Regions from separate parts of the Homo sapiens genome. Here regions 2, 3, 4, 5, 6 and 7 are each linked to region 1. The links come from fine-mapping of genetic effects on plasma protein levels. Region 1 holds a variant in brackets. A gene starts in each other region. All regions are shown on their reverse strands.

The links. PIP is the posterior inclusion probability: the model's chance that the variant is causal. The UK Biobank Pharma Proteomics Project read protein levels with antibody pairs (Olink). The fine-mapping took linkage between variants from a reference panel, not from the people measured, so its PIPs are less certain.
Region 2: it holds the start of CRYBB1, and the variant in region 1 is fine-mapped to the plasma level of the CRYBB1 protein (UK Biobank, PIP above 0.99).
Region 3: ENO2 starts here. The variant in region 1 is fine-mapped to the plasma level of the ENO2 protein (UK Biobank, PIP above 0.99).
Region 4: VEGFA starts here. The variant in region 1 is fine-mapped to the plasma level of the VEGFA protein (UK Biobank, PIP above 0.99).
Region 5: it holds the start of PDGFA, and the variant in region 1 is fine-mapped to the plasma level of the PDGFA protein (UK Biobank, PIP above 0.99).
Region 6: CPXM1 starts here. The variant in region 1 is fine-mapped to the plasma level of the CPXM1 protein (UK Biobank, PIP above 0.99).
Region 7: it holds the start of HPSE, and the variant in region 1 is fine-mapped to the plasma level of the HPSE protein (UK Biobank, PIP above 0.99).

What each region holds. Positions count from the first base shown.
Region 1 is chr8:105,566,822-105,570,884 of GRCh38, reverse strand. The region is part of intron 4 of ZFPM2 (zinc finger protein, FOG family member 2); the gene reads right to left. Among named protein-coding and RNA genes, the nearest start is that of ZFPM2, 250 kb to the right of the region's middle. The variant T/A (reference allele first, on the strand shown) is at 1,585.
Region 2 is chr22:26,616,488-26,620,550 of GRCh38, reverse strand. It overlaps CRYBB1 (crystallin beta B1), which reads left to right and starts at 2,524. Exons shown (of 6, transcript NM_001887.4): 1 at 2,524-2,574. It also overlaps a transcript of CRYBA4 not described here. RefSeq lists enhancers at 1,439-2,114, 2,793-3,470.
Region 3 is chr12:6,912,060-6,916,122 of GRCh38, reverse strand. ENO2 (enolase 2) reads right to left here and starts at 1,543. Exons shown (of 12, transcript NM_001975.3): 1 at 1,464-1,543; 2 at 206-302. The coding sequence starts at 290. It overlaps LRRC23 (leucine rich repeat containing 23), which reads right to left. Exons shown (of 8, transcript NM_001135217.2): 7 at 3,096-3,393; 8 at 1,894-2,232. The coding sequence ends at 3,120. RefSeq lists enhancers at 1-550, 551-1,192, 1,871-2,040, 2,071-2,140 and silencers at 1,549-1,739, 1,271-1,760.
Region 4 is chr6:43,768,062-43,772,124 of GRCh38, reverse strand. VEGFA (vascular endothelial growth factor A) reads right to left here and starts at 1,914. Exons shown (of 8, transcript NM_003376.6): 1 at 813-1,914. The coding sequence starts at 1,418. RefSeq lists silencers at 1-464, 535-1,474, 1,852-2,101 and enhancers at 1-723, 724-1,489.
Region 5 is chr7:517,950-522,012 of GRCh38, reverse strand. PDGFA (platelet derived growth factor subunit A) reads left to right here and starts at 2,167. Exons shown (of 6, transcript NM_033023.5): 1 at 2,167-3,074. The coding sequence starts at 3,012. PDGFA-DT (PDGFA divergent transcript) reads right to left here and starts at 1,622. Exons shown (of 3, transcript NR_033963.1): 1 at 1-1,622. RefSeq lists silencers at 1-32, 1,698-2,037, 2,138-2,227, 2,508-2,647, 3,108-3,197 and enhancers at 1-609, 2,454-3,375.
Region 6 is chr20:2,798,630-2,802,692 of GRCh38, reverse strand. It overlaps CPXM1 (carboxypeptidase X, M14 family member 1), which reads left to right and starts at 2,066. Exons shown (of 14, transcript NM_019609.5): 1 at 2,066-2,292; 2 at 3,800-3,967. The coding sequence starts at 2,121. RefSeq lists enhancers at 1,523-2,508, 2,509-3,496, 3,497-4,063.
Region 7 is chr4:83,332,472-83,336,534 of GRCh38, reverse strand. HPSE (heparanase) reads left to right here and starts at 1,687. Exons shown (of 12, transcript NM_001098540.3): 1 at 1,687-1,979. The coding sequence starts at 1,753.

The DNA.
Region 1 (4,063 bases):
ACTTGGCCTAACTAAGGGTAAATAGGTTTAGCCATATAAACCAAAGGCCAAAATGTATTAAAATTTCAGGCAGAGGAGAGTAAGTTAGGTCCATAAATAAAATTGTCTATGTATAGCAAGGAATTGTGTTTCCACCTTTCAAATCCAAGTCCAAATGTAAAGAACCTGGAAAGACTTCACCATCAGGAGAAAAAGTAAGTCAGGATGAGATTGAGGTTAACAGGCTAGCTATACACAAAAGGTATTATTTTGGAGGCAAGTAAAAATTATCAGGAAGGGCACAAATTCAGGTTTTCATTTCAATACCATTGTGCCATATGACAATGTATTTTCATCCACTGCCAACATCATAACTATATCTGCATTATAACACAGCAAATCCCTTCAGATTAATATGCAATTGACCTCTCTGGCTTCTACATATTTCAATTGTGAAATAATTCTTCGGTGTTTAATTTCTTCCTTTCTGACTCACATTCAATAGCAGGCCTTTGATTACTGAGGCCTCCACACAAACTTCTTTCTCCTCTTTCCCTGAGTAATCCCCCTCCATCAAAAAAAAAATAAATAAAAATAAAAATCAATAAAACAACAAAAACCCTACCCTAATTCTAGAAACCAAACCAACGCATCACTTTCCAAGGCTCTGCTGCATTACATTTCTTGCCTTCAAGTCTTCTTTGAGCAGCTTTTCTGTCCACTCAGTTTCCATTAATTCTCCACATAGCAGATAGAGTATAAGAGAAGCCAGGATCTTGCCCTCCCTAAGGGACAAATCTACAACCTCCATCAATAATGAATTTCACCAATGTTTCCCAAGAGGAACAGGGTACAATTAAAAAGGTTATAAGTCCTTGCACTACTAGAACCTAAGGGCGTCTGTGAATGAAACTGGCTTAAGCCCAATTAGAGGAATCAGTACATTTGTCTTCTCTTGGAACAATCTTGCTCTTACGGTTCCCATCAATTCAGTATAAATCTGACTGATCTTATCCAAGAAGTTAATAGAAAATTGCTCACAGTGGGCGACTGCCACCTCAGTTTCCAAGCAGAGACAGATGGAATTTCCCAGATGGTTTGTCACTGGAACGTGTGAGGCTGGATGAGACTTCACAGAAAGCATGGTAGAGCAGAACACCTTCTTGGCCTTCACCCATGTCATAGTGAGGGATCTAAAACTGAGTCTGTTGTAAACAAATCATAATTGCCTCACTAGGCGCAACACCTCATCCTCCTAGCTGCATCCAAGGGTTGCAAATCTTACACCGAAATTAGTCAACTTTTCTCAAGAAACCATCATGGGCATATCTCCTTATGAGATAAAAACTGAAGAAATAGACATAGTTATCTTGTCCTACTGAAGTTTCCTCTCAAACGAGACTAAAATAAAAGTGCAAGTCTATAAACAAATAAAACAGGTACAAGATAGCATTTCCTGTGGTAATTGCTCTGCTGAGTTAGGCAGATGAAGCAAGATCACAGACGAAACAGACATGGATGTAAAGCCTCAGGAAGGATGCAGGGTCTTGAATAAGGAGGGGTGTGCAGCTGTTCCTGATATGGAGAAAAGTGAAAGGAAAAAAT[T/A]AATGTGCTGATTCATTCAATGTTATTCATTGAGCTCTTAGTATAAGCTAGACATTGTTCTAAGTGGGAAGGATAGAAAGATAAAAAATAGATAATAAGCATATGGTCTGCAGGGGAGATAGACAAGCAAACAGGAGCTCACAGTTATGTGATCAGTGCTCTTATCCTAGTAAACCTAGAGCACCAGGGAAATACTCCAAGAGTGGTTATCTATTCCAGACAGGAGGCTTCAGAGAAGGTCTACCTTGGAAGTGACTTTGAGCAGAGTCTTTAAATAAGTATTGGACTTAGTGAGATGAAGAGAGATAGGTGGGGAGGGGGGAATAGGGGTTTCCAGGAGGATAAAACAGCATGACCAAATGTACGGATGTGGAAAAAAAATGGACATTCAGGGCACTGCATGTAGTTCAGAATGCCTAAAGTCTATAAGAGAGTGGAAAAGGGGTCAGAACTGGGGAGGTGAGCATCACCTGGGGAGGTGAGTAACAGGAAGGCCTTTTTTAGGCTTTACCAAAACCTTGGGGTATTCTCGTGCCCTTTAGAATGATTTTAAAGCACAGGAGTTAAGTGACTACTGTAGTTTTGCTTTCAGGACATACTGTGGTCTGAGTAAATAAAAAGATGACAAGAGAGAACAGAAGAATATTGTAATAATCAAGAGAGAAGCGGTGGGGCTTTCGACTAAAGCAGTGGTAGCAGGACAGAAAGAGGAGAACAATCATTACGAAAGCAGGAGTTATGATGCTTGGTTTCTGGACATGAAATGGAGAGTCTTGGAAGATGTTTGACTCTGAATAGAAGGAAAAAGAGATGGTAGTAGTTACAGGCAAAAGGAGAGAGGTATGGGTATGTGTAACTGTGTGTGAATAGCATTTGAGATGTGAGAAGGAGAGGTAGAAATGCAGAAAAGACACAGGATAATTGAGAGAATGGACTCCCTGCAGAGGTACGAAAGGAGAGGCAGAGGACTAGGATTAAAGGTGACTGAAAGCTGGAAGTCATGGAAAAGAGAGGCTGTCTGTGGAGACAGGAATAAACTCTCTTTGTGACTGTGTAGTTGGAGGAATTAAATGGGAAAGCTTGCAAAACAGTTGAAATGTGCTATTAGAGAAAGGGTAAAAAGCCAAGGTTAGAGATTTTTTTATTTAAATGTCATTTGTAAATTAGTAGCTGAAGCTTTGCAAGTGGATAAGCTCCCTGAGGCACTGGGAACAGAGGGAGAAGAGAAGAAAGGCCAGAAGTGTTTTGGGAAACACTCACAGTTAAATTAAAAAGAGCTAAGACCCAGAGAGATATGAGAAATAGGAAAGTATGGTAGTCCTGAGCCCAGATTAAAATGAATATTAAGAAGGAAGATATCATTCACAATGTCAACATCAATGAAATCTGAGGCTCAACAAAAAGTCATGCCTCAGCAAAATTATAAATTATGCCATTGAGATGGGAAAGATGGAGAATATGGGTGGAGTCAGTGAGAATGTTCCTGATAAGCAAATTCAATTCGATTAGATTTTTATTTTAAAGAGCAGTTATTGAATACCGATTATGTACCAGTAGTAGAGGTCCAAAATTGAATAATAAAGATTAAATAATTCTATGTCCTCTAGAATCTCAATAATAATTTGGATATTGCTTTTAAATTTATTTCATTATTACATCTTAGAGGCTGTCTTAGTATGGATTCCCCAGAGGCTTACCCTGAGACTGATTCAAATACAAGTAGTTTACTGGGAAGTTGATCCCAGAAAATTCCAGTAAGGTTGTGGCGAAGTAAGCAGGAAAGGGAAGAGGTCCACAAAATGTTCACTATCAAGGCAATCAGAGCTCAATTCCACTGCCAAACTCTAACAGACAATATAGAACACATCTTATATCCTAACCAAGAGGAAGGGAAGCGGAGGTGTTAGTCCACCAACTTTCTGTCCATCATTGGTTGAGGATAACCTTTGGGAATAGGAAATCTCCAGCACTTCCAGCTTTCCCAGCTTGCAAGGAGTTTGCTCTTAACGCTGGAAAAAAGTGCTCAGGTAGAAAAGTCACAGGTGTGCCCACTGAGCAGCCTTTGCCTATAGAGGTGAATGCTGGAGACATAGGTAGAGATATATTTGCTACAGGATATGTACAATATGAAGCTTGAAGACTAGCAATTATTAAGATAAAAGATGAATACTGGAAAAGATAAAACTGCAAAGGGATAAATGGAGGCAATTAATAATTCTAATTATAAGCAGGTAGATCAGGAACTTCTAATTTTTTCCTTAACCACATTTCTATAAAGATGACTATCTTAAAACTTTTAAGATGCAATTTGATACATGCATTATTTCATTATTAGGTCAACAAAATATCTATAGTGCCCTTTATATGTATATTTCATTTTTTTAAAAAAAATTCAGTATCACAAATACCCTGTGGGAAAATAATACATTTTATTCTGATTGAACAGAATAAAATGAGATTTCTCTGTCAAATTTCATTT
Region 2 (4,063 bases), not on the chromosome of region 1:
CATGACTTTGATGAAGGGTTGGCATGAAAATGAAAGGTTAACAATGCACCCTCTACAGCCAGACTGCCTGGGTTTGCATCCCACTGGTGCTGGCTGGGTAACTTTTAAGCATGTTACTTACGCACTCTGAGCCTCAGTTTACTTGTGTGTAAAATGGGTGTAACAAGGTAAGTTGGGATTAGTCTAAGAAACAGGGGGATTGTGAGGATAAATGTGAATAGCACATGAACAGCAGCTGGAATTGCTCCTGCAACATAAAAAATATTGTGGTATTTCCATCATCTTCATCATCACCATTGCTAATAAGAAAGATGATTATTATTAATTGTTGATCAAAAAGCAGGGGTGCATAGTTTTTAAGAGCCTGGGTTCATGAGTAAAGAAGATGTGAGTTCCAATTTTATCTTACATTTCCATTTTTATGAGAAAGTGGCTGAGAGAGAGGAAGGAAAGGGAGTTGCTTCAGTTTCCTTATCCGTAATTGGGGTTAATCCCAGAGACTTCATCCTTATACTGAGGAGTACAGGACAATGCAAAAAAAAAAAAAGAAAAGAAAAAAAGAAAAGAAAATAAATTGGCTCCATAAGACAGGGCAAAAAAGAAAAAGATATAATGAAGGATACAATAATAATAATAAATGCTCAGAGTGGAGCCACCAACATGGTGGGCCATCCCCCTTCTCTGCCCCCACCCTCTGGCAGACAGCCCATTCCTGGGGCTTTAGGGGGGGCACGGAACTGCCCCAGATGACCTGGCTTTGAAGCCTAGACTGGTGGGTGGGCCCTCACCACAGGCGTCTTGGCCCCAGTTCCAGTGGCTACCCCATCTTGCAGTTCCTGCCCACACCCCACCCACCAAGTCTTGGCCCAGGATGAAAGGCCAAGGAGAGGCTAGGAAGCGAGGGGGTGCTGGGTGGTGGAGGGACAGAGGCAAAGCTGGCTCCAGGCCAGGGAGAGTTCAAGACAGAGCTGGGCTCCACGGGGAGCCTAGAACCCCGAAAAAGAAGAGACAGGAGCCTATCCAGATGCCCCCGCAATATACCCTGCCTGGGACTGGGGAGCCGACTGCAGGTGACCTAGCTGAGCAGCTCCCCAGGCTCCTTCTGACCCCAGCTGTACTGTGAGTTCCCGCCATGTGACTATGTTGAAGTCATTTGTTCCACCTGGGCCTCGGTTTCTCCATTTGTGAAATGGGAGGATTGGGCCCTGTGATTTCTGGCGTCTGTTCCTCCGTCCTGAGGCTTGATCACCCCAACTTGACCTCTGTCTCTCCGTCTCTCGCTCCTTCACTGTCCATGTCCCCTGTGCCTCTCTGTGTCTCTGTCTCCACCTCTCTCTTTGTCTGTTACTTCTATCTGCCTCCTTACTTCTCTCTCCTTGCCTTGGTTTCCCTATCTCCTCCGTACCCTACCTTCTGTTCCGATCCATTGGAACCACCATTGAGTCACCAGTTATTGACTGAGAACCCATGATGTGCCAAGCTCTACCTAGCCAGGCCCAGCTAGGTGCTGGGGCCAGTGGTGAACAAGATGTGGTGGGCATCTGGGGCTTGCCAGGGCAGGAGGCTCTGGGACAGGCAGTCATATTTCTGGCCACCAGCACTGTCCTCCAGGTCAGATAACGTGGCCTGGGTAGAGGCGGGGAACTGGGGTGGCGAGAGGGATCACTGTCGATAGGTCAGGAAAGGATGGGGCCCAATGTGGGGAAAAGAAAAAGACCCAGGTCTCCGATATCCAACCCAGCTGAGCACAGTGCGACTCTCCCATTCCCACCCCAACCTACAAAGAGGAAGTCAGGCCAGGGGGCCTCAGGCCAAGGTCAAGGCTGGACAGCAGGAGAAGAAAGCACACAGGCCCAGAGCTGGCTGGCCTGGGCTGGCTCTGACCTCTCTGTGCCTTCACTTTCCTCTTCTGTGAAATGGGCATAATGAAAGTACCAAATAAGGCAGATTGTCCCGGGGACTGACCGAGATAACACGGGTTCGGCACACAGTAAGCACTCCGTAAAAAAGGCTGTCCATATCAAACCCACATCTGCCTTTACAAAACGCTTCTGTGCTCATTGTCACCTTCTTTTCTATATGGCATCCAACAGGGACACGTGCCCACCTTATAATTGCAGACACAGAGGCCCCCCTAGGGGTAGAGACCTACCAAAAGCCACACAGCGCGCAGTGGCTGAGTCAGGATTCAAACTCTGGTCTCCTGCCTCCCAGGGTCTCCCCTTTTCCCTGCCCCATGTTGGCAGCCAGCAGGGACCCTTTTGGGGGCCCATCCCTGGCTGGGGTTGTTGAGAAAGGAGTCAGGGTAGGGTTGGAAGGTGAAGCTGCTGTGGCCAGGGTTTCTGCTGTGTGTGCTGGTCTCACAAAGGAAAGTGCTGCTGTCTGCAGTGATCCAGGCGAGGTCAGGGCCCCAGTCCCCCACTCCCTGCCCAGGCCTGCTGAGCCAGCTTCCCCTTTGTGCCACAGACTATAGGGCCTGATGTCTGCCAGACTATAAAATGGGGGGTCGGACTCTAGTCACCCATAGCACCTGCCCGCCTGCCTGTCCTCCAGCAGGAAGTAGCAAGTCCCCAGGTAAGAGGGAACCCACAGCCCAGCTGAGAGCTGAAGGGGAGGGGAAGAGAAAAGGGAGACAGAGAGAGGGAGGCAGAGATAGCAGTGCCATGAGAGTCAGAGAGCAGGGCCATGGAGATAAAGACGGAAGTGGAGAGAGGAAGAAAGGGAGGGAGAGGGAGAGGGGAGAGAGTGAGAAAAGACAGAAATAGAGAGAGAAGTAAATATAATTAAAAAGGACAGATAGAGAGATAAGCAAAGATACAATGAGGGAGAGATAGTGGGGGAGAGAGGAACAGAGAGGGAGAGAAACAGACAGGCAGATAGGCAGAAAGAGGGAGAGAAGTAAGAAACAGATAGAGAGGCAAAGACAGGGAAGAGAGGAGGAACAGAGGGAGAGGGTGAAGCAGGGAGAGAGAGAGAATGAGAATATCTCCAGGAAGGCATGAGTCCAGCTGCCAGCCCTGGGGGAGTGTTTAAAGCCACAGATGTGGTCCAGATGTCTGGCCTCACCCCTGGTGAACAGGGGGCACCCCAGAATATGCACAGCCTTCCTGGAGGAGGCTGGGGGAGGGATGTGCTTATCCCAACTAGCTCCGCCTTACAGAATGTGTTCGGGAATCAGCTTGACCAGAGGGTCTTAATCTGTGCTAGCAGGGGGTCCTCAAATCCCTTAACATTGTCTCCAAAGTTAAAGAGAGCATTATTTTTGTCCGGGGACAAAGTTGAGGTATTCATCAAACATTCAAAGGAGTCCACGACCCCAAAGCAACAAGGAACCACTGGAATTGACCAAAGCCCTCTCCACCCAAAGCCTACCCAGCCCCAGTCCTCATTTTCAGAACCCTCCACATGCAGTAAATACATCCTCTTGGGTCCTCCCATAAGCCTCAGTCCCCGGCCTGTATTTGCACCCATACACCAACCCCTCAGAGGAAGCAGACGGGGAAAGGAGCTGGGAGCATGCATTCATTCATTCTCTGAACAAATGTTAATTGGGCATCTCCTATGTGCCAGGTGCAGAGCAAGTGTTAGGGATGGACGGTGAATAAATCAGATTAAGCAAATGGCAGAATACTTTAAAAGCCCAGTTGCTGGCTCCATTTCCTTGAGTTGAAATCAGAGCCCTACCACTTAGTAGCTGTTTGGGCCTGAGCTGGGCCCCTTCCTTCTCCAGCCCCCTGCTGCTCAGAGGGGATCATGATAGCAGCTACTCCATCGGGTGAGGTTCATGGTCAGATGGGTTAATTAATGTATGTCACAGTGCCTGGCACACCTTAAGTACTCCCAAATGGGACTTCTTGTTATTAGTCTAGGGAGGCAAATTGGAGTTGCACAAGCAAATCAGTGTGATAAGCAGTGTGGAAAATTGCAGGGGGCTAAGGAAGGACCTAGCGGGGTAATGGAGGGTGGAACAGCTAGTGGAGGGAACCGCATGGTCAAAAGCCTGGAGGAAGGATATATGTGGGATGAGTGGCCCCCAGACGGGAAGGTCTTGGCTGGGAAGTAG
Region 3 (4,063 bases), not on the chromosome of region 1:
ATGCCTCACACGCTAAACTCGAACACAGACCCACCTACCCTGGCTCCCCGGACAAGGAGGATCCAACCGCCACAACCCAGGCTTGTGAGCCTGGCCCAGCACCCCATACCCCTGGGTATCAAAAAAGGCCTCCGAACCCCTGGCCGAACCCAGCCTGGCCGTGGAAAAGCTAGGGCTGTAGGAAGGCCCATGCCACACCCATTACCTTTGGCAGTATAGAGATCCACCTCCACTGTGGGGTTCCCGCGGGAGTCCAGGATCTCCCGGGCCCAGATCTTCTCTATGGACATGATGGCTGGGATCTCCTCGGGTGGAAGGGAAGGAAGGAGAAAGATAAGAGGCTTAGAGGGGTGGAGCCTGAGATCAATGGGCGGGGCGGGAGGCTGGGAGGGATGGGAAAGAGGTTACTGCAGTGGGTGGGGGGTGGGTAGGGAGGCGCTGGCTGCAGTCTAGGGCTGTAGAAGGGATTCCCCCTCCCCCCTGGGAAGAGGAGAAGGTCAATGCAGTGAGGAAGGGGAGGTCACTGCAGTGGGGGGCGGGGTAAGATCAAATGATGAGATGGGAGAACACTGCAGTGAGGAGGGGAGGGGCACGACAGTGGTTCCCGCGCCTCTTTGCAGCTTGGCCAGCCGGTGGGGTTCCCCCAGATCTCCTCAGAGCGGAATGGCTGCCAGGCTTGCATTTCTCCTGGGAGCCAAGAAGAGGATGGGCTGCCTGGGCCTCTCTTCCAGAGCCCCCATACCTCCCCAACTTAACACCCCAGCTGCCTGAACACTGCCCCTTCCCCAAGGTCCCACTCTCTCCCAAACGTGTATCCCTCCTCTTCCCGCGAAAGGCGCATGCAATACAGGTGTCGGGGAAGAGGGTCCTGAGAAAGGCCCTGCAGTCCCTGGGGGTTGCAGCGGGAAGTGAAGAGGATAAGAGCCGGTGGGGAGTGGAGGCGAGCTGGGCCTGTCCTCCCCTCTGCGCCTCGACAGATCCCCACTTCTTCCATCTCTCCCCCGTGCAGCAGAGGGGAGGAAGCGCGAACGGAGAGGGGCGCCGTGGGGAAGAGCAGGAGAGAGGGGAGTCCAAGGGAAGTCTGGGGGAGGTGAGGAACGGTGAGAGAAGACATTTCCCCAAATGCAAACCAAAAGGGACGCTCTAGGATAAAAATGCACCGCCCGGAGAGGCTCCCAACTTAGAAACAAATAGAACCGTAGATGAGGGCGAGCACCGGGAGAGAGGCAGGCAAGGGTGGAGAGGCGCAGTTAGAGATAGGCGCGCAGAGGGCCAGAAAGCGAAGGCAGCGGGCGGGGAAGGCCAGGGAGGGAAGGCGCCCTGGGCGCGGGCGGCGGAGCAGGTGCGCAGCTGCACCGGGCCAGAGATGCGGAGAGGTGCGCAGCGGCACCGGGTAAAGGAGGCAGGGGCGCCGCGGCGAAGGGAGGGGGCCACAGGGGCTCTGGGCCTGGCGGGGGCTTCACCTCGGGACTGCAGACTCAGACGGTGGTAGTGGCGGTGGCGGTGGCGGTGGCGACGGCGGCGCTGAGAGAGCGGGAGTGGCAGTGGCGGCGGCGGCTGCGGCTCCCGGGCGGCGGGCGGAGGAGGCGCCTATAGGGCCGCGCGGGCGCATGTGACCCGGAGCCCCCGATGAGTCAGGAGCTGCCGGCGGAGGCGCACGTACGAGCGCGGGTGGGGGACCGACGAGGGTGGAGTGGGGAAGGGAGGAGGATGGGGGAAGGGTGGGGGCACCCACGACCTGGCCCCAGCGCACACAAGCGCTCATACCCACGGCCCGACCCACTCGACAGTAACAGGCAGAGCCGCACCCCTGTAGCCCGGGTACGAAGGCCCACACTGCCAGTGAAGCCCAAGACAGCCTCAATGTCTCACAAACCCGGTCAGACACAGGAGCATCACTCTGTTTCTTTATTGGAAATCCGAACACCCCAGCCGCCTTCGCAAGTCTCTCCAACCACTCCTACCAGCACCCCGCGGCCCACGCGGTCTTGGCTCTCACCCACGCCTGCCCGAGGGCGGCCCCCGGCCTAGGCTCCAGGCAACGCTCAGGCCTAGGCACCCCATTCTGCACCCCACACTGCCCAGAGGACCGGCACAGAGCAGATCCTGGGCCTCAGGTTGTGATGAATTTCCAGCTTTGGGGCAAAAACAGGCATCCTCTGTTCTCTGTCATACATGTGGTGGCTGCCCCTGGGAGTCTGATCAGGTCTGAAGGCCAGCGTCTTTGATCTCCTGGAGGTAGAAGACAGAAGTAAATAGGGACCAGGCGCTGTGGCTCACCCCTGTAATCCCAGCACTTTGGAAGGCGGAGGCGGGCAGATCACGAGGTCAGGAGATCCAGACCATCCTGGCTAACGTGGTGAAACCCCGTTTCTACTAAAAATACAAAAATTAGCCAGGCGCGGTTGCATGCGCCTGTAGTCCCAGCTACTCGGGAGGCTGAGGCAGGAGAATTGCTTGAACCCAGGAGGTGGAAGTTGCAGTGAGCTGAGATTGTGCCACTGCACTCCAGCCTGGAGACTAAGCAAGACTACCTCGCAAAAAAAAAAAAAAAAAAAAAAAAAAAACAAACAGAGGTAAATAAAGCCTCTCCCCTATCTAAAGTGCCTGGCGGCCACCCTCATCTCTTCAGTCTCTTTTTGCCTCACTCTGCCCTCTTTTCTTCCCCCATCTCTGTGTCCTGTTTTTAGCTTCAGATTTTTTGTGCTGGATCTTCCTCTCCTGCTTCTCTCCTAGGTCCAGCTGCATACACCACCAACTTTCCCCTGCAGCCCCTACCATGCACCCACACCTGTCCTTTCCTAGCCGACTTCACTCTGTGTCAGGTATGGCTGCCCCACCCCCCACCAACTCCTCTGCCTGCCACCCCAATTCTTTTCACTTACTCTTCTGGCCTCCTAAGTCTTTCTCAGCTGGTCCCAGGCCCCTTGGGTCCCTTTTCCTCTCCCTGACTCCTAACCCTCCTCTCTTTAAGGGTCCTGCTTGTCTGATGCTTTCCTCTCCCACCTCCTTCTGCAGCAGCTTCCCCTCTTGCCTCTTCCCCTACCTGCCCAGCCCTTGGCCTCCTCCCACTGCCTCCCTGCAGGCTTCCTTACTATCTTTAGAGGCTAGAACTGCTGCTAGATCAATGACTGTTCGGGTTCCAGGTCACGCTGGGGCTCAGGCTCCTGCTCCTTTTCTTCCTTCAGCCTCTGTCGAATCACATCAGCCTCAGCCCGTTCCTCCTCCTCATAGAATTCCTTGTCCAGGCGTTCAAGGTATGGCATCTGCACCAGGGCCTCCTGGCGGTAGCTGGTTTCGTCCGTGCATGGGTTATCAAGCAGCACCAACGCTCGCAGCTTGGGCAGGTCTCGAAGCTTGGCCAGCTCCCCCAGGTTGGCCACCATGTTGCCCCTGCCAGTGTGGTCAGGAGGGGTTCATGCAGGAATAATGGGCTTTGGTTGCCAGTTGCTAGGAATGGGGCCTCTGGGGGACTCTCGGGGTTCCAGTGTCCCTAGAAACACTGTGAGGACTGGCCTGCCAAGCCTTGCCAGATTTACTGCAGAGGTGCTGTGTGACCCCGCTCTGGTCCTGCTTCTGCCCTTCAAGGAATCCCTAAGTGCCATATTCTACTCTGTAATACATTCATGTGTTCTTTTGGTGCAGCAAAGCTAGGCCACAACCCTGTCTTGTAGCTGGGGAGGAGAGGGCAAATTTTCCTCACAGGGAGAGACATTTTCTGTGATCACACCTAAATGGAGGGTAGAAGGTAGGACCCAGCCTGGGCAACATAGCGAGACCCCATCTGTACAAAAGCTAAAAATAAAAAAATTAGCTGGGCGTGATGGCATACACCTGTAGTCCTTGCTACTTAGCTGAGGAGGAGGGATTGCTTGACCCCAGGAGTTTGAGATTACAGTGAGCCGAGATCGAGCCACTGCACTCCACCCTGTAGGACCTAGGTCAGTGGACAAGGAACTGGGATCTAAGCTGGAGTTTAGGGTGGTGGATGCTCGGTTCGTGCTCTCCACAAAGAGAACCTAAGGCTATGGATGGGTTGGAGCCTCCCAACCTGAAGAATAAA
Region 4 (4,063 bases), not on the chromosome of region 1:
CTGGATCCCCGGGCTGGGGCTACCTCGAGAGGTCACCTTCCCGCGGAGGGCTGGCGGGGGGAGGGGTGCCGCTCGCCACTCTGGGCTCCCCATTCGGGCAGCCGAGGCTCCGGGAACACGCGGCCGGCCAGGCCCGGGCTGATGTAATCGGCTCCGCGCCGCGCGCACCCGGCCGGGCGGGGGAGGGCGGGCACCGAGCGGGACGCGAGCGGGGACGGGCGGGGTTGGCGCGGCGCAGGTGGCCCAGCAGGGAGGGGGGGTCCCCGCAGCAATCCACCCCAAAACTTTTCCCAAACTCGCGGCGAGGGCTGAAGAGACCGAGTGGCAGTGACAGCAAGCCCCCTCTCCCTCCTGCGCCCTGCCCCCTCCACGCTCTCTGCCCTCCCGCGGTCCAAGGTCCGAGCACCCCCTGCCCACTGGTCTCTGGCTCCCGCCCCCGCTGCTCAGACTTCCAGTTCGTCCGGGACCAGCGGCCGGGAGCAAACTTCAGCCGGCAGCGGCAACGCAAGCCCAGCCCCCTCGGCCTCCTCCTCCGGCTCCCGCCCTCGGCTGGTCGGCCCAGATCGTACGTGCGGTGACTCCGGTGGGTGGGCAGGGCCCGCGTGGGCGGTGAGCCTCTCTCCGGGTACCCTCCCACCTAGCGCGCGCGCCCCCTCCCCCTGCACCTAAGACGACAGAGGGGGACGCCGCACGCCTGGTGCCCATGGACCCGCGTGGGGCACGGAGCCCCCACGCGCGCGCTCGCACGCACGTCCCCAGCCGGGAGAGGCGCTCGCAGCGGCCCGCGGCGCCAGCAGGGCACGACCGCTTACCTTGGCATGGTGGAGGTAGAGCAGCAAGGCAAGGCTCCAATGCACCCAAGACAGCAGAAAGTTCATGGTTTCGGAGGCCCGACCGGGGCCGGCGCGGCTCGCGCTCCCTCTCCGGCTCGGGCTGTGGGGCGGCCCGCTCTCCTCGGCGCCTCGGCGAGCTACTCTTCCTCCCCGGCCCGAGGCCCGGGCCAGGGCCTGGGGAGCGCGCGCGGCTGGAGCACTGTCTGCGCACACCGCCGCCTCACCCGTCCATGAGCCCGGCTTCCGAGCGCCGAGTCGCCACTGCGGCCCCCTCTCCTCTTCCTTCTCTTCTTCCTCCTCCCCCTCCTCCGGCTGCGGCTCCTCCCGGCCCGAGCTAGCACTTCTCGCGGCTCCGCTCGGCTCGGCTTCCCCCGCGCGGACCACGGCTCCTCCGAAGCGAGAACAGCCCAGAAGTTGGACGAAAAGTTTCAGTGCGACGCCGCGAGCCCCGACCCCCTCCACCCCGCCTCCGGGCGCGGGCTCCGGCCCCTGCCCGCGGCTCGCCGCCGCGTCCACTGTCCGCCGCCGGCCGGGGAGGAGGTGGTAGCTGGGGCTGGGGGCGGTGTCTGTCTGTCTGTCCGTCAGCGCGACTGGTCAGCTGCGGGATCCCAAGGGGGAGGGCTCACGCCGCGCTCCGGCGGTCACCCCCAAAAGCAGGTCACTCACTTTGCCCCTGTCGCTTTCGCTGCTCGCACGCCCGCGCGCTCTCTCTGACCCCGTCTCTCTCTTCCTCGACTTCTCTCTGGAGCTCTTGCTACCTCTTTCCTCTTTCTGCTGGTTTCCAAAATCCACAGTGATTTGGGGAAGTAGAGCAATCTCCCCAAGCCGTCGGCCCGATTCAAGTGGGGAATGGCAAGCAAAAATAAATTAAAACGAGAAACAATACAGTTTTAAAAAAAAATGTTTAAGAAAAAAGAAGAGGGATAAAACCCGGATCAATGAATATCAAATTCCAGCACCGAGCGCCCTGGCCGGTGAGTCCGCTGACCGGTCCACCTAACCGCTGCGCCTCCCGACAGAGCGCTGGTGCTAGCCCCCAGCGCCACGACCTCCGAGCTACCCGGCTGCCCCAAGCCTCCGCGATCCTCCCCGCTACCAGCCGACTTTTAAAAAAAAAAGGGGGGGGCGCATGGCTCCGCCCCGCCGGGACCCCGCCCCCGGCCCGCCCCGGGGGGCGGGGACAGGCGAGCCTCAGCCCTTCCACACGCGGCTCGGGCCCGGGCTCTGCGGACGCTCAGTGAAGCCTGGCCCGCAGCCCGCCGCAATGAAGGGGAAGCTCGACCCCCACCAAGGTTCACAGCCTGAAAATTACCCATCCGCCCCCGGAAACTCTGTCCAGAGACACGCGCCCGCGGGGCATTGGCGAGGAGGGAGCAGGAAAGTGAGGTTACGTGCGGACAGGGCCTGAGAGCCGTTCCCTCTTTGCTAGGAATATTGAAGGGGGCAGGGGAAGGCGGAGAGCCGGACAGGGACGGGTGGGGAGAGGGACACACAGATCTATTGGAATCCTGGAGTGACCCCTGGCCTTCTCCCCGCTCCAACGCCCTCAACCCCACACGCACACACTCACTCACCCACACAGACACACACGTCCTCACTCTCGAAGACGCTGCTCGCTCCATTCACCCAGCTTCCCTGTGGTGGCCGAGCGCCCCCTAGTGACTGCCGTCTGCACACCCCGGCTCTGGCTAAAGAGGGAATGGGCTTTGGAAAGGGGGTGGGGGGAGTTTGCTCCTGGACCCCCTATTTCTGACCTCCCAAACAGCTACATATTTGGGACTGGAGTTGCTTCATGTACAGAGAGCCCAGGGCTGGGCACAGGGGCCACAGTGTGTCCCTCTGACAATGTGCCATCTGGAGCCCTCATCTGGCCTGCAGACATCAAAGTGAGCGGCAGCCAACAGGCTGGAGTGACTGGGGTCCTTTGGGAAGTGTCCAGGGATGCTTCCCAGGGGAGAAGAATTTGGCACCAAGTTTGTGGAGCTGAGAACGGGAAGCTGTGTGGTTCCGGGGTTAGTCAGTGACTGGGAGGGAAGAGGACCTGTTGGAGCCCACGTATGCACTGTGGAGTCTGGCAAAACCCAAAGGGGGAGGCAGCTGGGCAGACAGAGGCCCTTGTTCCTGCTGCCCCCCCAACCCCAGATGTTGCCAGGGAACTGAGGCCAGGGGGCTGGTGGGGGCGGGTGGAGGCCAGGGCCTGCGTGATGATTCAAACCTACCCGCCAGCACTAAGGAACGTCTGTAGGCCAGCTGCCCAGAGCTCCCACCAGGCCAGGGGCCAAGGCTTCTATCAGCCCAAGCCCAGACTCATAGCTCATCTTCTGAATAGAAATGGGGGTTTCGTCTCAGCTCCCCCATTCCCTCAGGATCCCTTGGCTACTTCTCCAGGCTCACAGCTTCTCCCCTATCCTTCCCCCAGTCCCCTCCCTTACCTCCAAGCCCCCTTTTCCTCCAACTCTCCACATCTTCCCTAAGTGCTCCCAAAGGCCCCATCCCATTCTTGCATATAGGAAGCAGCTTGGAAAAATTCCTAGCTGGTTTCTGACCTGGCTATTTCCAGGCTGCCCCAGGGAACAAAGTTGGGGCTCTGAGGCCTGTGGGAAGAGTGGGACCAGTCAGTCTGATTATCCACCCAGATCTTGCCAGGGTCTGGCCTACAGCTGGCATAGCCTCTGTGGAGGCATGGACTGAGAATGGGAATGCAGCAATTTCCCTCAATTTAACCAAAACGCTCCAGGGAGCTTACCTAGTCAGCCCCATCCTCAGCACATGTTGCTGTGGTTTGGTGGAGGTGCTAGGTTACCTCCCCAGTACCCCCAGTTCCATCGGTATGGTGTCCTAAGGCCCTTATGAGGAAAAGGGCTGGCTCCCACCCACCCCAACCCTCCCTTTCCATCATTCGTGCACTAGTCCTGTCTCCACCACTTGGCAGGCTCCCCAGCAGCAGGGACAAGGTCTTTGTACAGTTAGTAAATGTTTATTTCCTGGCTCAGGGCCCCCTCCCAGGCAGGCCTCCTCACCTGGGCTCCATGCTCTAGGCTGATGAACGGGATATGGAAGGGAAGCCACTAACTTTCCTCCTTGTGCGCCTCTAGCACCCCAGGAGCACAAGCTGTAGACATCTTGGGGCAGGATGGAGGCTCTGAGCCCTAAGGGCTCATTCTGGCCCCCTCCCTTGCATCCCTTCTCAACTCGGCCTTCTTCAGCCCCTAAAAGAGCCAACAGACCTG
Region 5 (4,063 bases), not on the chromosome of region 1:
GCGCGGCTGCACAAGTTTTCGCCTCCCTCGCGCGGCCGCTGTTGTTGTGGTCGCCATGGCGACGGGTCGCGGTTTTATTTTTAATAGCGGCCGGCGATTAGAGAGATGCCTGCACCGCTTTCGCCTAAGCTCTGCGTCCCCCGCGGGTGAAGCACCCACGCCCCGCCCCAGCCCCCGCCTCGCTCCAGCGCCCCTTGCACGTCCCCAGGTGGCCCTAAACTCTAGCTGGGCGCACCCGTAGCTCCAGGCCGGGCAGGGGAGCCGAGGGAAGCAGCCATCTAGGCCCTCAGAGGCGGCGAGGACCCCCAGGATCCCTCAAGCTGGGAGGGACGGGTACCCCATCCCCAATACAACGCGACCTTCCTCCTTGCCTTCCACACCGTCTTACCGAGTCCTCTAACCCCACAGAGGTGTCCTCGGGCCCCCTCTGCGCGCGAGCAGTCCGAGGCCCAGGAAGACAGGATGCGCGCCACTCCGGGATAACTGGCCGAAGAATGAGGCCGGGGTCCGGCCTGCGTCCTGGCCCTGCGAGTCCGGCTCTTTCCAGAAGCCATGCAGTGGGTGTCCCCTCCCAAGCCGCAAGTTCCCCCTGGAGGGACAAGGCCTGGCTTTAAGGGGCTCCTCCACGTTTCCAAGGCTCCCCTGGTTCTGTCCCGGTCCCGCTTGGTCCTGACCACCCAGAGGGCATGCTTGACCGCGGGGGTCGTGGTGTGGGGCTGCGGCCAACGGAAGGGAGAGACGTGGGGAGGGGGCCTGCAGGTGTGTGGAAGGGCGCGTGTAGACGCGACCCACTGGGAGCGGAGGGAGAGGCGTCGCTCCCCAAATATTTGGGGGAAGGGGAGAGCCCCCGAAGCGCTCTCCGGATTCGGCCTTTGAAATGCTAGAGCTGGCCTAGCTGGGGATGAAAGACCGCCCGCGGGGCTGCGCCTTAACGGCCTTTGTCTGGAGGGAGGGCGACCGCGACGGGGGCAGGGGTTTAATCGACAGGGTTGGGGGTGACGGCTGGGCCGGGCGGGATTCTCCGCTGCTCACCCAAGGAAGCGTCTCCTGGGCTCCAGGGGCCTAGGCCGTCTAGCCTCGGGGTCTGCACAGCACGCCACCCCGCTGGACCCGGTACCAGGACGCGTAGACCCCCTGGCAGGGCACTGACGAGCACCTGGACCTGTAGTCAGGGTCCAATCCCTCCTGGTCTAGGGAGGCGAAATCCATCCAGCCCAGGCGCACCCGCCCTTTCTCGGCGTGGGAGCCGTCTAGCCACGCTCAGACCTCGGCCTCCGCGCGCGTTCCTCCCCCGCATCGCGCTCTGAGCTGCGCCTCGGCCGGAGGTGGCGCTCTGTGCGCCCCACGGATCCCGACGCGGGAGGCTCAGAACCCGGGGGACCCTCACCGGTGGCTCCTTTCCCTTCCATCCCCTCGACTTCCCGGCTCAGGGCGCGGCCCTGCCTTCGGCGCGGGAGTGGGGGACTGGGGGGCGCGGGGTCCCAGGGTGGGGACGAGGCGGGCTGCAGGCCCTTTCCCCGACTGGAGCTCGCTCCCAAGTGGAAATGTGGGTGGAGGGTCCTCATTCAGATGCCCCAGGCCTCGGATCCTGGGCGGGGGCGCGTGGCAGCCGCCAGGTGAGTGCCCCAAACCCGCCCCCCTCCTTCCCCAAAGACTGACTCCCCCTCCTTTTATGGAGAGAGGAAGGCTGGGGCCCTGGATCCGAACCGTGGAGAGCGGCCGGAGCGCCGGGGCGGGGGCGGGGACCGGCTCTCTGGCCCTTTTTGGCGCAGCAGCTCTGGGCGCTGCCCGCTGCCGCCGCTGGGGCCCGAGAGAGGCGAGCCGGCGACGGCGGCGCTTCTGCGGCGGCCTCCTCCCTCCCCACCCGGTGCCGCAGGATTGCAGCTGGCACTGGAGGGTGGGCAAGCTCGAGGGAGGGGCGCGGAGCCCCGGCGCGGAGCCGGGCGCGGGGCTTTGATGGATTTAGCTGCTTGCGCGAGCGCGTGTGTGCTCCCTGCCGCGGCGGCGGCGCCCGGGCCCTGCCGGGTCCGCACGAACCCCGAGCGCTTCCGAGGTGCGGGTCCCAGGCCCGGAATCCGGGGGAGGCGGGGGGGGGGGGCGGGGGCGGGGGCGGGGGAGGGGCGCGGCGGCGGCGCTATAACCCTCTCCCCGCCGCCGGCCGGCTCCACACGCGCGCCCTGCGGAGCCCGCCCAACTCCGGCGAGCCGGGCCTGCGCCTACTCCTCCTCCTCCTCTCCCGGCGGCGGCTGCGGCGGAGGCGCCGACTCGGCCTTGCGCCCGCCCTCAGGCCCGCGCGGGCGGCGCAGCGAGGCCCCGGGCGGCGGGTGGTGGCTGCCAGGCGGCTCGGCCGCGGGCGCTGCCCGGCCCCGGCGAGCGGAGGGCGGAGCGCGGCGCCGGAGCCGAGGGCGCGCCGCGGAGGGGGTGCTGGGCCGCGCTGTGCCCGGCCGGGCGGCGGCTGCAAGAGGAGGCCGGAGGCGAGCGCGGGGCCGGCGGTGGGCGCGCAGGGCGGCTCGCAGCTCGCAGCCGGGGCCGGGCCAGGCGTCCAGGCAGGTGATCGGTGTGGCGGCGGCGGCGGCGGCGGCCCCAGACTCCCTCCGGAGTTCTTCTTGGGGCTGATGTCCGCAAATATGCAGAATTACCGGCCGGGTCGCTCCTGAAGCCAGCGCGGGGAGCGAGCGCGGCGGCGGCCAGCACCGGGAACGCACCGAGGAAGAAGCCCAGCCCCCGCCCTCCGCCCCTTCCGTCCCCACCCCCTACCCGGCGGCCCAGGAGGCTCCCCGCGCTGCGGGCGCGCACTCCCTGTTTCTCCTCCTCCTGGCTGGCGCTGCCTGCCTCTCCGCACTCACTGCTCGCGCCGGGCGCGCTCCGCCAGCTCCGTGCTCCCCGCGCCACCCTCCTCCGGGCCGCGCTCCCTAAGGGATGGTACTGAATTTCGCCGCCACAGGAGACCGGCTGGAGCGCCCGCCCCGCGGCCTCGCCTCTCCTCCGAGCAGCCAGCGCCTCGGGACGCGATGAGGACCTTGGCTTGCCTGCTGCTCCTCGGCTGCGGATACCTCGCCCATGTTCTGGCCGAGGTTGGTGCCGCCCCCGCGCCCCGTCCCTGCGCCGGCTCCTCCGGCGCACACCCCCCGCCGGCTGGGGCGCCACGGGCTCTGCAGAGAGCGTTTTGGTTCCTGCCAGGGTGGTCGATGTTTAGATTTTCCCAACTGGGTTCTATTTTCTGCCATGCCTAAGTGTGTGTGGGGAGTTTCCAGCGTGTTGCGTCGGTCGCTCTGCCTCGGGGGGACCGGGGAGCAGCGAGGTGGACGAGTGGGCAGAAACTTCGGGGGGCGCAGTGTCCTCTCCGGGGAAGGGGAGCTGGGGCGCAGCGGGCGCTGCAGCAGCGGGGTGCGGGGAGCGGGGAAGGGGGTGTGTGTGAGCCGGCGGAGCCTGGGGAGGAGAGAAGGGCGGCGGATAAATAGGTAGGGGCGGCTGCTGCGGAAGCCCCTGGCCGGGCAGGGTGGGCAGCGCCAAGCTGCAGCCCTCGGTTCCCAGTCCCCAAGCCCGGCGGGGCTCAGGGCCGGCGCAGTCCCGCCCGCCCGGGCCTGCTTACAGGTGGCTGAGCGAGGCGAGCTGGGGCTGGGCCAGGCGTCCGCACCCTCCCACCGCGGCGTCCCCGCCCCCCCATCCCCATCCCCATCCCCATCCCCGGGAGCTTTGCTGTGATGAATGACTTTCCACAGCCCCCGTCGTGGGAACTTAGTGCTTCAGGCTCCCCAGCGACCCCCGACTCTCCTTAAAAATCGGGGAGGGGAGTGGGGGAGGCCAGAGGTGAGGGTGGTCTCCGCAGGGCACGGAGAGCTGCGCGAGGTGGAAGTTTAACCCTCGCTTTCCCTGGAGGCTTCTTCTCCCGGCCGCCGGCTGGATTTGGGCGTCTTAGTCGGCGCTAGGGCCGCGGCTGGGCCGGAGCCCGGGGTGGGGCGAGTGTGTGAGTGAGATGTGTGTGCGCGTGTGTGTGTCTGCGCGCGCGTGCGTGTGTTTGTGAGACGGAGAGACCTCTCCACGGGTTCGGCCCGGGATTCCG
Region 6 (4,063 bases), not on the chromosome of region 1:
AAGTATTTGGGTATGTGGGTGGGAGATTGACTAGGGAATGGAGCAGATGGAGAGGGTGTAGGTGAAGAGTGAGCAGGTTGAGGAGGATGTAATAGGCAAAAGGAAGGATCATCTAAGACATCAGAACCGGGAAGGGAGGACGTTCCTTGGAAGCATACATGACAATTTGTATGTAATTTTGGGTTTGGATTTGGGGATAAAGCAAAAAAGACCTGAACATATGGGACTTCTGAATCCTTTCCAAGGTTCCGGCAAAAAATCAGTTAAGTTGTAAAGTAGCATTGCAATCCCAAGTTTCATTAATTGGCCAAATTGATTGATTAGGGAGCTTGTATTGAACCCAAGCAATATTAGAAAAAAGGATATGCTTTTTAAACTCTTATTTATTTTTTATTTGTATTTTTTGAGACAGAGTCTTGCTGTGTCGCCCAGGCTGGAGTGCTGTGGCGCCATCTTGGCCCACTGCAACCTCCGCCCCCGGGGTACAAGTGATTCTCCTGCCTCAGCCTCCCTAGTAGCTGGGATTATATGTGCCCGCCACATATAATTAGCCCCCTGGCTGATTTTTTTTTTTTTTTTGTATTTTTAGTAGAGACAGGGTTTCGCCATGTTGGCCAGGCTGATCTCGAACTCCTGACCTCAGGTGATCCACTCGCCTCGGCCTCCCAAAGTGCTAGGATTACAGGTGTGAGTCACTGTGCCCGGCCAAGTTTTGCATTTTTAGTAGACTCCCGGTCTTTAACTCCGGACCTCAGGTGATCTGCCTGCCTTGGCCTCCCAAAGTGCTGGGGTTACAGGCATAAGCCATTGTGCTCAGCCTTATATGCTTATTTTTAAGAGTTTGTGGGTCAAAATGAGACCAATGGGACCATTTTTAAGGAGGCAATCCAAGGGCGAGTTGGATGGAACTGAATTAATTGAACCGAAGTTGGGTTTAGACAAGGAACTACAAGATCCCTGAGGCATCCCTGTGTAGAATTGAGATCCACCGCTTCCAGGACAAGGCTTATGGAGTGTTAAAATGAAAGTGCCCTGCCACTCTGACAGGCAATAGCTCTTTTGTCTTGGCCTTGGGGTAATACCGGGGGATGGCGCTTGGCCAGAAACTGTCAGTTGCCAACGAGAACTCAAGCTGGTTCACTGGCAGTCCGAAAACAGAAAAGAGCCCTGGCCAGTCCCTCACCCCTAAGGGCAAGGACAGCCAGGTATCCCTTCTCTAGGGCTTCAGGATCCCACAGAAGAGCTGCCTCCACCGGGACCGGCAGTTCCCCAAAGAGTAAAGAACCAGACCGTGGAAGGAAGCAGAGAGAAAAAGGAAGAGGGAAATCCCAGTGAAGTCCCCGTATGGGCCACCAAGATGCCAGGCGAGGTGTCAGAGCTCCGGAACCGGGAAGTGGTTGGCTCCCGGGTGGTAAAAGAACTTATCAACAACCGTGTAGGTCTGAAAAGGAAAGTTTTATTAGACGGAAAGGACGAGGCAGCAGAGCGCAGTAGGCGCTTCAGCAAGAGAGGACTGAGCTCCCTGCGGGGAACTGCAGGGTAATTTGGACCACATTAGTCACTTAGGTCATGGTAAATGGTTACATTTGTCGATATTTTGGTGCCTTGATGTCAGCAAAGTTTGCACAATGGGTCTTAACGTGCACTCATTCCGGAAACGTACAGAAATTCTAGTTACTTATAAATTCTTGGGACGGAAGCTTGGTACCAGATGTGGCTTTAGACAATAGGGAAGTGTCATTCTGAATTGCTCAGATAAGGGGCTTTGCCTCCTGTTGGTCGACTTGATGGCCACCAGGTGATCTCTGGTCTCTTCAGTGTGGCTTTGCAGACTATAAAGGCGCAGCGCGCCAACGAGGCGGGTTGGCCCCAGACGGCGGAGAGGAAGGGCAGAGTCGGCGGTCCTGAGACTTGGGGCGGCCCCTTGGAGGTCAGCCCCGCTCGCTCCTCCCGGCCCTCTCCTCCTCTCCGAGGTCCGAGGCGGGCAGCGGGCTGTGGGCGGGCAGGAGGCTGCGGAGGGGCGGGGGGCAGGAAGGGGCGGGGGGCTCGGCGCACTCGGCAGGAAGAGACCGACCCGCCACCCGCCGTAGCCCGCGCGCCCCTGGCACTCAATCCCCGCCATGTGGGGGCTCCTGCTCGCCCTGGCCGCCTTCGCGCCGGCCGTCGGCCCGGCTCTGGGGGCGCCCAGGAACTCGGTGCTGGGCCTCGCGCAGCCCGGGACCACCAAGGTCCCAGGCTCGACCCCGGCCCTGCATAGCAGCCCGGCACAGCCGCCGGCGGAGACAGCTAACGGTGAGTTCCCCGACCGACGGTCCGCTCCCCCGCAAGCCGACTGCCCGGCTCTCCTGCCCCGTGGGGCGATCCCTCCCTAACACGCGGGCACACGCACACCCACGCACACTCACAGTCATGCACACTCACCCCGCACGCACACTCGCACTCACGCGCACACACGCGCGCGCACTCACACACATTCACACACGCGCACACTTGCACTCACACGCGCGCGCATTCACACGCATGCACACACACGCACACTCACACGCGCGTGCGCGCACACACAGTGCACGCGCGCGCACACTCACACTCACAGTGCACACACACATATACACACTCACACTCCCTCAACTCCCTGCTGGGAGCAATGGCTGCTGACTCGGCAGCCCCAGTTCCCTGCCAGACCTAGTCAGCAGTCCCAGGACAGGCGCCAGTGGGATGCTGCCTCTTCCAAGCCCCAAACCTTCCCTTTTCACCAAAGACAAAACAGGCCAGAACTGGCAGGAGGGGAGACAGAGGGGCAGAAGCTCTCAAGGTGCAGAGCAAGACTGCGTAGGAGAGAGTTTGAAGGCGAGGGCTGGAGAGAAAGAACAAAAGGAAAGAAGGGAGAGCCCCTCGCTGAGGCTGCCGGGAGGATGGGGCAGAGCGGGAGAGGAAGGCAGCCCGACCTCCCAGCTTTCCAGATGTGGAATAGGAGAGGAGGAGCGCAAGCGGAGGGCACTCAGGGGCTTCTAGAGGAGGCAAGTGGAGGAGGGTCTTGAAGGGTGATGTCCCCGAGTCAGGGGAGTCTGGAGAGAGAGAGAGAGAGAGGGCTGCCAAGAAGGAAGCGGCGGGCAAAGGCACAGGGGCACCAGATGCGGAAATGGGCAGCCTGTTCTGGAGGCAGCTGTGGAGCTTCGATGGGTACCCCCAGCACCTGCCTGGGCAGAGCCTTGTGCTGAAGGGCCGGCGGGCAGGCCCAGCCCTGAAAGCCTCGACACCCAGGCAGACATGGATTCCAGGACAGGCCATCTGAGCCCAGAGAGCAGACACAACAATGGAAGCGGCACAGGGGTTTTGGGGCATGATGCTGAGTCTGGAGCTAAGAAAGCCTCCTTGGAAAGGCATCTGGGCTGAGATGCAAAGGAAGAATGGGAATTAGGTGAAAAAATCAGAGGCGAGGGGTAGCATTACAGGGGAGGGGATAGCTAGTGCAGAGGCCCGGAGGTAAAGTGCCAGACTCAGCTCTTTGGAGCAACCGAACAGTTTCTAGAGGCTGGGTGCAGCTCTCCATTGGATTAGAGGTTCACAGGGGAGGCTGGCCAAGCATGTAGTTACATCAGGGAGGAGAAGGAGGAGCCAAGGAAGTGACTGGAGAGGCAGGTTGGGGTCAGATTGCAGGCCTTTGATGTCCTGTGAAGGCTGTTAGATCCTGGTGGTGTGGCCTGCTGTGGGCTCACATGTCTTCTTGGGCTGGCAGACCTTTCCATCCGGGGTTTCACCATTCTTCCTTTCCCCCATGCTGTGCCTCTCGGACCCCAAGGGACCTCAGAACAGCATGTCCGGATTCGAGTCATCAAGAAGAAAAAGGTCATTATGAAGAAGCGGAAGAAGCTAACTCTAACTCGCCCCACCCCACTGGTGACTGCCGGGCCCCTTGTGACCCCCACTCCAGCAGGGACCCTCGACCCCGCTGAGAAACAAGAAACAGGTACTTCCTCTCCAGGGGCCCAGCCCAGACTTGCAGCCCCTGGGGCACTTTACCAGCACAGCTCTTGGCCTCATGGGCACCGGCACGCCCCTTGCT
Region 7 (4,063 bases), not on the chromosome of region 1:
GCTCAAATAAACCTCCCACCTCAGCCTCCCCAGTAGCTGGAACCACAGGCACGGGCCACCACGCCTGGCTAATTTTTTGTATTTTTTGTAGAGATGGGGTTTCATCATGTTGCCCAGGCTGTTCTTGAATTCCTCGGCTCAAGCAATCCTCCCACCTTGGCCTCCCAAAATGCTGGCATCACAGGCATGATGGCATCACTGGCATCACATACCATGCCTGGCCTGATTTATGCAAATTAGATATGCATTTCAAAATAATCTATTTTTATTTGTTGCCTTATTGGTGGTACAATCTCAAGTGGAAAAATCTAAGGGTTTTGGTGTTATTTGCTTACTCAACCAATATTTATTAGACTCTTACTAAGCACCAACATGATCACATGCCTGAGCTATGGCTAGCATAGCGTGTGAGACAAACTTAATCTCTGTTTTGGTGGAGCATATAATCTAGTAGATGAAGCCAATGTTGAGCAACATCACAATACTAACAAATTGAGGATGCTACGAGAGTGTCTAACAAATTGAGGATGCTACGAGAGTGTCTAACAAATTGAGGATGCTATGAGAGTGTGTCATGGAGAGCTGCCTGGAGATTGAGAGAAAGCTTCCTTGAGGGAAGTTACATTTCAGCTGAAACACACTGCCATCTGCTCGAGGTTTTGTAACTGCATTCACATCCCGATTCTGACACTTCACATCCCGATTCTGACACTTCACCCAGTTACTGTCTCAGAGCTTGGGTCCGCATGTGTAAAACAAGGACAGTATGCACTTGGCAGGGTTGTGAGAAGGGAAGAGAACACAAGTAAAGCACCTGTATCAGGCATACAGTAGGCACTAAGCGTGCGATGCTTGCTATGATTATACATCAGTGTAAGCATCAAGGAAAAGCTGAAGAAAAGTCTGACCAACAGCGAAAGATAAATGCGCAGAGGAGAAATTTGGCAAAGGCTCCAAATTCAGGGGCAGTCCGTACTCTACACTTTGTATGGGGGCTTCAGGTCCTGAGTTCCAGACATTGGAGCAACTAACCCTTTAAGATTGCTAAATATTGTCTTAATGAGAAGTTGATAAAGAATTTTGGGTGGTTGATCTCTTTCCAGCTGCAGTTTAGCGTATGCTGAGGCCAGATTTTTTCAAGCAAAAGTAAAATACCTGAGAAACTGCCTGGCCAGAGGACAATCAGATTTTGGCTGGCTCAAGTGACAAGCAAGTGTTTATAAGCTAGATGGGAGAGGAAGGGATGAATACTCCATTGGAGGTTTTACTCGAGGGTCAGAGGGATACCCGGCGCCATCAGAATGGGATCTGGGAGTCGGAAACGCTGGGTTCCCACGAGAGCGCGCAGAACACGTGCGTCAGGAAGCCTGGTCCGGGATGCCCAGCGCTGCTCCCCGGGCGCTCCTCCCCGGGCGCTCCTCCCCAGGCCTCCCGGGCGCTTGGATCCCGGCCATCTCCGCACCCTTCAAGTGGGTGTGGGTGATTTCGTAAGTGAACGTGACCGCCACCGAGGGGAAAGCGAGCAAGGAAGTAGGAGAGAGCCGGGCAGGCGGGGCGGGGTTGGATTGGGAGCAGTGGGAGGGATGCAGAAGAGGAGTGGGAGGGATGGAGGGCGCAGTGGGAGGGGTGAGGAGGCGTAACGGGGCGGAGGAAAGGAGAAAAGGGCGCTGGGGCTCGGCGGGAGGAAGTGCTAGAGCTCTCGACTCTCCGCTGCGCGGCAGCTGGCGGGGGGAGCAGCCAGGTGAGCCCAAGATGCTGCTGCGCTCGAAGCCTGCGCTGCCGCCGCCGCTGATGCTGCTGCTCCTGGGGCCGCTGGGTCCCCTCTCCCCTGGCGCCCTGCCCCGACCTGCGCAAGCACAGGACGTCGTGGACCTGGACTTCTTCACCCAGGAGCCGCTGCACCTGGTGAGCCCCTCGTTCCTGTCCGTCACCATTGACGCCAACCTGGCCACGGACCCGCGGTTCCTCATCCTCCTGGGGTAAGCGCCAGCCTCCTGGTCCTGTCCCCTTTCCTGTCCTCCTGACACCTATGTCTGCCCCGCCAGCCGCTCTCCTTCTTTTGCGCGGAAACAACTTCACACCGGAACCTCCCCGCCTGTCTCTCCCCACCCCACTTCCCGCCTCTCATTCTCCCTCTCCCTCCCTTACTCTCAGACCCCAAACTGCTTTTTGGGGGGTATCATTTAAAAAATAGATTTAGGGGTTACAAGTGCAGTTCTGTTCCATGGGTATATTGCATTGTGGTGGCATCTGGGCTCTTAGTGTAACTGTCACCCGAATGTTGTACATTGTATCTAATAGGTAATTTCTCATCCCTCATCCCTCTCCCACCCTCCCACCTTTTGGAGTCTCCAGTGTCTACTATTCCACTAAGTCCATGTGTACACATTGTTTAGCGCCCACTCTAAATGAGCCTTTTTGTTTCATTCATTCTGTAAGTGTTGAATAGGCACCACCTAAGGTCAGGTATAAGTGGAAATTTGAAAAAGAAACTGCCCACTTGCCCCAGTACTTCCCTAGCCAAGAGGAGGGAAACCAGGCAGGTGCACCTGAAGGCCTGTGAGTGCTTGATTTGCTGTGCAGTGTAGGACAAGTAAGATTGTGCATAGCCTTCTGTATTTAAGACTGTGTTAGGAAGATTTCTCTTTCTTTTCTTTTCTTTTTCTTTTTTCTTTTCTTTTTTTTTTTTTAGGCAGATGAAAAGGGCGTCACAGAACAGGAATAAAAATCTAAATATTCAATAAATGAGACCTAGGAGACTACTGCAGTGACTTACAAAGTCCTAATAAAAAGATGTCTCTCCAAAATGGGGCTGCAAAATGTGGTGCTGCCTTATCAGCTCTAAGTTTTTTCCTTACCTGAGAAAGAAGGAACCTGATGCAGGTTCAGGGCTCCTGCCCCATGAATGCAGGCTGACTCCAAGATGGGGAGCTACAGGGACAATCCCAGGTCTTCTAGGCCTCTTATTTAGGCCCTGGGAGCCTCCAGAGATGGCCACATCTTGACCAGCCCAGATAGAGGGAAAGATCACCATTATCTCACCTCTGTGTCAAATACCTAGATGCTGTCCTCCCTGAGCCCACACTATAGTTGCCAGCGCTAATTTAATGGGTAGTGTACTGGTTAAGAGATGGACAGACCATCCTGGCTTGACTCTCAGCTCTGGCAAAGATGAGTGACTTGGTTTTTCCATATCTCTTGGCCACACCAACCTTGATTTCTTCAGCTGTAGAATGGAATTTCTCAAGCTTGCCTCAAGGATTATTGCCCGAGGATTTGATGATATGGTAAGAGCTTCTCAGTGTTTGACCCATAGTAAGTGTTTGACGTTTCAAACGAATTGTTTCTTTCTAGGACATGGTGAGCATTTGGTAGCCATTCACCGGTTTTCTGTTTCTTTGGATCATAGTTAACCTCTCCTTTTCCTTCTGGCACTACAATTTTCTGGTGGGGAAGAATCCTTACTTTCTGCCCTTCCCCTTAAGGATAGGAAGCTGATACTAGGCAGCAACTAGTTGGGGGATAGGAAGATTGTTCCAGAGAAATGCTGAACCATAGGGCTCCAGATCACAGGACCCCAGTCTTAGCTTGCTGGGGTGTGGGGTGGGGGGGGGCGGTTACTGAACATGGGTATGAAGTAGATGTCCATTTACTGAAATGTGAGGACCTGAGGCCTCTTCTATTGCTGTAGCCAGCATATTCCCCAACCTCTCCCCAAGAAAGGACAGATGGGGGTTCCCCCCTGGAGTAACAGGTCCAAAAGAAAAAACATACAGTGGGACTTCCAGGATCTGGGCCTGATCACCCAGCAGTCAAGCTCCCCGCAATTGACTAACACCCCCCTAACACGTAGAAATTCCAATCTGCAATTTAGTGAGGATGATACCTTTATTCTTCTTAAATACATCTCTTCATTTCCCAGAGCACCCTTTTTTCCCCTCCTCTGCACCTTTTTGTTAAAGACTGGAGTATAATGAAATACCAAGAGAGCATAACATGTGATACATAAAACTTTTTTTCTGGTTTACAAAACAGTTCATTCTTGTCCATACGTGCTTCTCTC